2 separate regions of the Homo sapiens genome follow, and region 2 is linked to region 1. The links come from fine-mapping of genetic effects on gene expression. A gene starts in region 1. The other region holds a variant in brackets. All regions are shown on one strand. Distances are from middle to middle.

Region 1 (2,912 bases):
AGCTGACCTACACCTAAAAATAGCCCAGAAATTCAAAGACCAAGTTTTCATTCCAAAATTTTTTATTTTGGAGAAAATAGAACGCATATCCTTTGTTCAAAGAGACAGCTAAGGAACAACACAGGACTTCAATGAAAAATATGTTGTTTATGTGTGTAGTTACTAGTCAGTATGCCCCACCTAGCCACAAATTAGTGTGGTTACTCTAAATTGCTAACATGAAAATCTTAACCTCCTACTTCTGAAGTTATTTGGTTTTAGCTACTCAATTTTTTTTTCTAGGCTTCCAAGGTTGCTGTTTTGGGCATGGTTTTAGAAATATAATTATAAGTTTGATTTCAAACTTCTGGACCATGTAATCAAGCACAGACTGGTCATAGTGGAAAATATACAATTTTTAGCTCTGCCTACATTGACAAAAAAAAAAATGGCTGGATCCACATCAATTCAACTTGAGTGCCATGTGTTTACAGTGACAGTTTCTCCCCGAAAACGCAAAAAAAAAAAAAAAAAAAAAAAGAAGATCCATGCTGCTGTAGTATATGTACATAGGGGTGTTTAAAGCCAGCCCCTCCAGCAGCACCTTACCAACCATGTCTGTGCTTTTATTTATTGATCCAATAAGATGACTTAAATATCTAACTCCTTTTCCACGTAAAAGTTTTTATTATGTGCAATGCATTGTTAAACAGGTGAAGAATGAACAAGTTTAGAAAAACAAAGAAGCTTAACATGGAAAATTACCCGCATGGTGTCCACTTTTCCTGCTCGGTTGCAATACCCAATGGATTATTTATTAATTTAGATTTGTGCTGTCCCTGAATCCAAACAGCAGCCTCTTTAGAGTAACATCTGCTCCAGACATTGCTCCAGGAATATAAATCCCGACTAAGGGGTGGATATTTAAAGCTGTAAATGATTTTTTATTTTTACAATAGCTTTGCAAAAGGAACGGAGGTGTCATGTCATCATCAGAGTTTTCTTAACAGGATTTAATCTTAATGCCAAACTAAATCCTTTGTCTAAAGCATCAGCAGAGTTGTACTTATTTTCCCCATAGTATTAAAGAGGAGGGCTGGTGCAGGCACAGCCATATGACATTGCCTTATTTATTTTGTCTGTTTGTTTTCTGGAAGAATCTAGGAATGTGCATAAATACAATTAAGGACAGTATCTACAAATTGGAAGAAAGCATTTCTATTCTCTTAAACCTCTAAATCAAAGCACTTAATGTTCTGATTTCCAGCAAGACCTTCTAATAAATGAAAACCCAACCCTTGGGTTTGTGTTTTGACTCTTGATACAATTATGAAAGACGCATCAGGAGATGGCAAGTGGCTGCCAGTACTTCCTTTTTTCTGGAATATTCTCTAATTCTTGGTGGATCAAGATGGAAACTGGTAGGCTTGGAATAGATGTCCCTTTAAAAGGCTCCACTAACAATACAAGAATATTTTTTCCATACGCAGTGACGTGGGTGGGTCATGGGTGTCTCAATGACAGTAACGTTCCCGAACCCCGGACCTTAGCTGTCATTTCACCTGCGTCGTCCCGGACGCCATTTGGCTGTTGACGTGGTTCCGAGCCAGCAAATAACGCCAGCAGCCCTCCCAGATCCACGCCGGCCCGTCTCTCCGCCGGCCCCCTCCTCGCAGTGGTTTCTCCTGCAGCTCCCCTGGGCTCCGCGGCCAGTAGTGCAGCCCGTGGAGCCGCGGCTTTGCCCGTCTCCTCTGGGTGGCCCCAGTGCGCGGGCTGACACTCATTCAGCCGGGGAAGGTGAGGCGAGTAGAGGCTGGTGCGGAACTTGCCGCCCCCAGCAGCGCCGGCGGGCTAAGCCCAGGGCCGGGCAGACAAAAGAGGCCGCCCGCGTAGGAAGGCACGGCCGGCGGCGGCGGAGCGCAGCGATGGCCGGGCGAGGGGGCAGCGCGCTGCTGGCTCTGTGCGGGGCACTGGCTGCCTGCGGGTGGCTCCTGGGCGCCGAAGCCCAGGAGCCCGGGGCGCCCGCGGCGGGCATGAGGCGGCGCCGGCGGCTGCAGCAAGAGGACGGCATCTCCTTCGAGTACCACCGCTACCCCGAGCTGCGCGAGGCGCTCGTGTCCGTGTGGCTGCAGTGCACCGCCATCAGCAGGATTTACACGGTGGGGCGCAGCTTCGAGGGCCGGGAGCTCCTGGTCATCGAGCTGTCCGACAACCCTGGCGTCCATGAGCCTGGTAAGGGCGCTGCCCCCTGACAGCCCTGGGGGCATCCCGGAGGGGGGCGGCAGAGGGTGGGACTGGTGGCGGTGGGGGAAGGAGGGAGGGATGGGCCCAGGGGTGCCTCTTGGTAAAAGGTATCTAAGGTGGAAGGTGGGAAGTGGAGGGAGGGATGGAAATGGGGAAGAACCCGACTTAGAGCGCCAGTGGCCCAATTTCTGCTTTCCCGTCCCATCCCCCCAGCACCAATCCCATCTCCCCAGACCTTAGGCCACCCTCTAGTAAGTATAGGCTTGGGAGGCTGGGGTGGCGGGGGATGGGGGGGATAGCAATACAGAAAAAACAAATCCTGACGCACGCAACCCCAGCGGTCGCTCTCACTTTGCTGTGTGAAAAACCCAAAGGAATGATTGCGAGTCCCCCGCAAGGGGGGTTGGTCTTCCTTGCTGACAAGAGTAGAAAGATAAGGTGCAGAAGGCAGTGATTGAGAGGAAAGGAGAACGAGGGAGAAAGAGTCATTTATCATGTTTTCTCTAATTTCCAGAGGACCAGTTTATTGGCTCTGTGTACCCATCTCTACCTGTGTGTGTATACGTATTAGGTACACTCGCTGCTGTGGATGCTTGGGGAATCTTAGGGATATTGCCAATCTGGGGTGGTGGTGTATAAAGATACGTTGGTGCCCCTCCTCCTACCAGGGTGAAAAGTGGTTTCTGACT
Region 2 (2,912 bases), 68 kb before region 1:
TCTTGCCTGATAACATCTGCAAAACATTGAGCTCGTCAAACATATCTGGTGATTCCAGTTCTCCCTACAGGGATTCAGAGAACTGTGAGCCACATTGCCTGCCCTCAGGCTGGCACAGGGACATAAACATTATAGAACTAAGAACAATAAAAATTTGAACAATTTAAAGTAATTATATTATAGACGGTACATTTATTAAACCTGAAGTACACAACATAGATGTTATTTGCTATAGGGTTCGGGAGCTGGACATAATCCCTTTTAGGCTAAAGTGGACAGGGAAGGCATCATAGAGAATGTGGAACTTTAACTGAGGATTCAGAGTTAAAGAGAACAGAGTAGATGGTGATAGGAGCCTGTCCGATTAGGACAGCAGCATGAAAAAAGTTGAGAAAAGTGAAAAGATGGTTGAAACCTGAGTCTAGCAGTCTAGTTTCTCCATTCACTGATTCCGTAATATCTCTTTAGCCCAAGGATCAGCAGACTTTCTCTTGAAGGACCAGAGAATAAGTATTTTAGGCTTTGTGGTTATATGGTCTCTGTCACAGCTTCTTATCTACTGCTATAGTGCAAAACCAGCCATATGTAAATGAATGAGTGTGGCAGTGTTCCAATAAAACTATATTTATGGATGGTGAAATTTGAATTTCATATAGCTTTTTACATGTCATGAAATATTATTCCTCTTTTGGTTGTTTTTCAGCCATTTAAAAATATAAAAACCATGCTTAGCTTATGGGTTCTACAGAAATAGTTCGCTGGACCAAATTTAGCCTGTAGCTGTAAATTTGCCGACCCCTGATTTAGCCCACTAACATGATAAACTAGGAATACGTTATGCAAATAAATTATAAGCGTATGGAGTTTCATTCTAAGAATATCCACTAGAAGATCCAAAATTGAAAGCTATGGGAGGTGAGTACAGGTTCAAGTAGTTGGAAAATAATGGCTCATTATTTAAGCTTGTAAATTGATATTTAAAAAAACCAAGAGTCAACATGGTACTTTAGCCCATGCCATTGCATTTTTTAATAACCTTAGAAAGAAGGCCAGGTGCAGTGGCTCACGCTTGTAATCCCAGCAGTTTGGGAGGCCAAGGCGGGCAGATCACGAGGTCAGGAGATCAAGACCACAGTGAAACCCCATCTCTACTAAAAATACAAAAAATTAGTTGGGTGTGGTGGCGGGCGCCTGTAGTCCCAGCTACTCAGGAGGCTGAGGCAGGAGAATGGTGTGAACACGGGAGGCTGAGCTTGCAGTGAGCTGAGATGGCGCCACTGCACTCCAGCCTGGGCGACAGAGTGAGACTCCGTCTCAAAATAAAGAAAGGAAGAAATAATAATAATAATAACCTTAGAAAGAAAGAC[A/G]ATTTAGTGATTGGATGTTCTTGCAAATGAATAGCATTTTCAAGGATTTATTTAATCAGGCTCCTCCTAAGAGTAGCATGTTCTGACAACAGCTATAGATTTATCAGAAAGCAATCTTTGGATATTGGTGGTAGTTGAGTTGCATGTTGATCATTAAATGCTGTACTCCTTTTGCAGGCATGGTCTACATGGCTGGACTTGTTTTTGCTGTTGGTGGCTTTAATGGCTCATTAAGAGTTCGCACTGTAGATTCCTACGACCCTGTGAAGGACCAGTGGACCAGCGTTGCTAACATGAGAGACCGGAGAAGCACTTTGGGAGCTGCTGTGTTAAATGGATTATTATACGCTGTGGGAGGCTTTGATGGGAGTACAGGTAATTTCCTTTTCATTTATTCTACATTGCTGCTAAAATTAACGTAGTAGTCATGTTTATGGAATAAATTGTGGCAACATTAGGGCACATGTGAGGTTTTTTGTGTTTTTTTTTTTTTTTTTGAGATGGAGTCTTGCTCCGTCGCCCAGGCTGGAGTACAGTGGCGCAATCTCGGCTCACTGCAAGCTCCGCCTGCCGGGTTCATGCCATTCTCCTGCCTCAGCCTCCCGAGCAGCTGGGACTATAGGTGCCCGCCACCACGCCCGGCTAATTTTTTTTGTATTTTTTAGTAGAGACGGGGTTTCACCATGTTAGCCAGGATGGTCTCAATCTCCTGACTTTGTGATCCGCCCACCTCGGCCTCCCAAAGTGCTGGGATTACAACATGTGAGGTTTTAACTGGTATTTAAAGATAAGTTTAAAATTTTATCAAGAATTTCCTTAAATGATATGAGTGGTGAGTATATAAATTTTCTTTCTTATGCATCAGTATCAGTCATCAAATTTTAAAAGCTTATAAATATCAGTAGCTTAGGTAGGAGCCTTCTGGAAAACAAGCTGTACCTGTTTTTCATGTAATTGCTGTGTTTATGTTCCACCATTTTCTTCTCTTAATTTTAGCCCAGTATAACATACCTGAAGTATTTTTCCATATATATGAACTATTGACATTTTTTAGAGAAGGAAATGAAGACTATTGTGCTTTATTATAGGTTTGTCATCTGTGGAAGCATACAACATAAAGTCTAATGAGTGGTTTCATGTAGCTCCCATGAATACAAGGAGGAGCAGTGTTGGTGTGGGTGTTGTTGGAGGTAGGTGTTGACAGTTCTTTCAGGTACATGTGGCATTTTGATCCTTGAGAGTGGTTCTTCCAGTAATCTCAACTTTAGTTTTCTGAATGGGCAAGCTAATTATCATTTTAAAAAGAAAAGTCGTAATTACTGTAAAATTTCAGTTATCCTCTTTTTAAAATTAGCTTCTCTATATAAATCAACCTATATAAAGCCTTTTCTCTCCCTCTCTATCCCCCTCCCTTTATCCCTCCTCCTTTCTCTCTGTGTGTGTGTGTGTGTGTGTGTGTGTGTGTGTGTGTTTGACTTATATAACTGTGTGTGTTTGACTTATATAACACGTGTGTGTTTGACTTATATAACAGCAGTCCCCAAC

Alleles and levels. Positions count from the first base shown, and alleles are read on the strand shown. Sizes are in standard deviations (SD) of each study's normalised expression.
In carriers of allele A in region 2, the expression in macrophages after interferon gamma of the gene that starts at base 1,691 in region 1 tends to be lower than with G alone (large effect, 0.94 SD a copy in Alasoo 2018).

What was found.
Region 2: its variant is fine-mapped to the expression of CPE in macrophages after interferon gamma (Alasoo 2018, PIP 0.95).

What each region holds. Positions count from the first base shown.
Region 1 is chr4:165,377,318-165,380,229 of GRCh38, forward strand. It overlaps CPE (carboxypeptidase E), which reads left to right and starts at 1,691. Exons shown (of 9, transcript NM_001873.4): 1 at 1,691-2,211. The coding sequence starts at 1,905. RefSeq lists a silencer at 1,724-1,983.
Region 2 is chr4:165,309,009-165,311,920 of GRCh38, forward strand. It overlaps KLHL2 (kelch like family member 2), which reads left to right. Exons shown (of 15, transcript NM_007246.4): 10 at 1,545-1,742; 11 at 2,456-2,557. Among named protein-coding and RNA genes, the nearest start is that of MSMO1, 17 kb to the right of the region's middle. The variant A/G (reference allele first, on the strand shown) is at 1,368.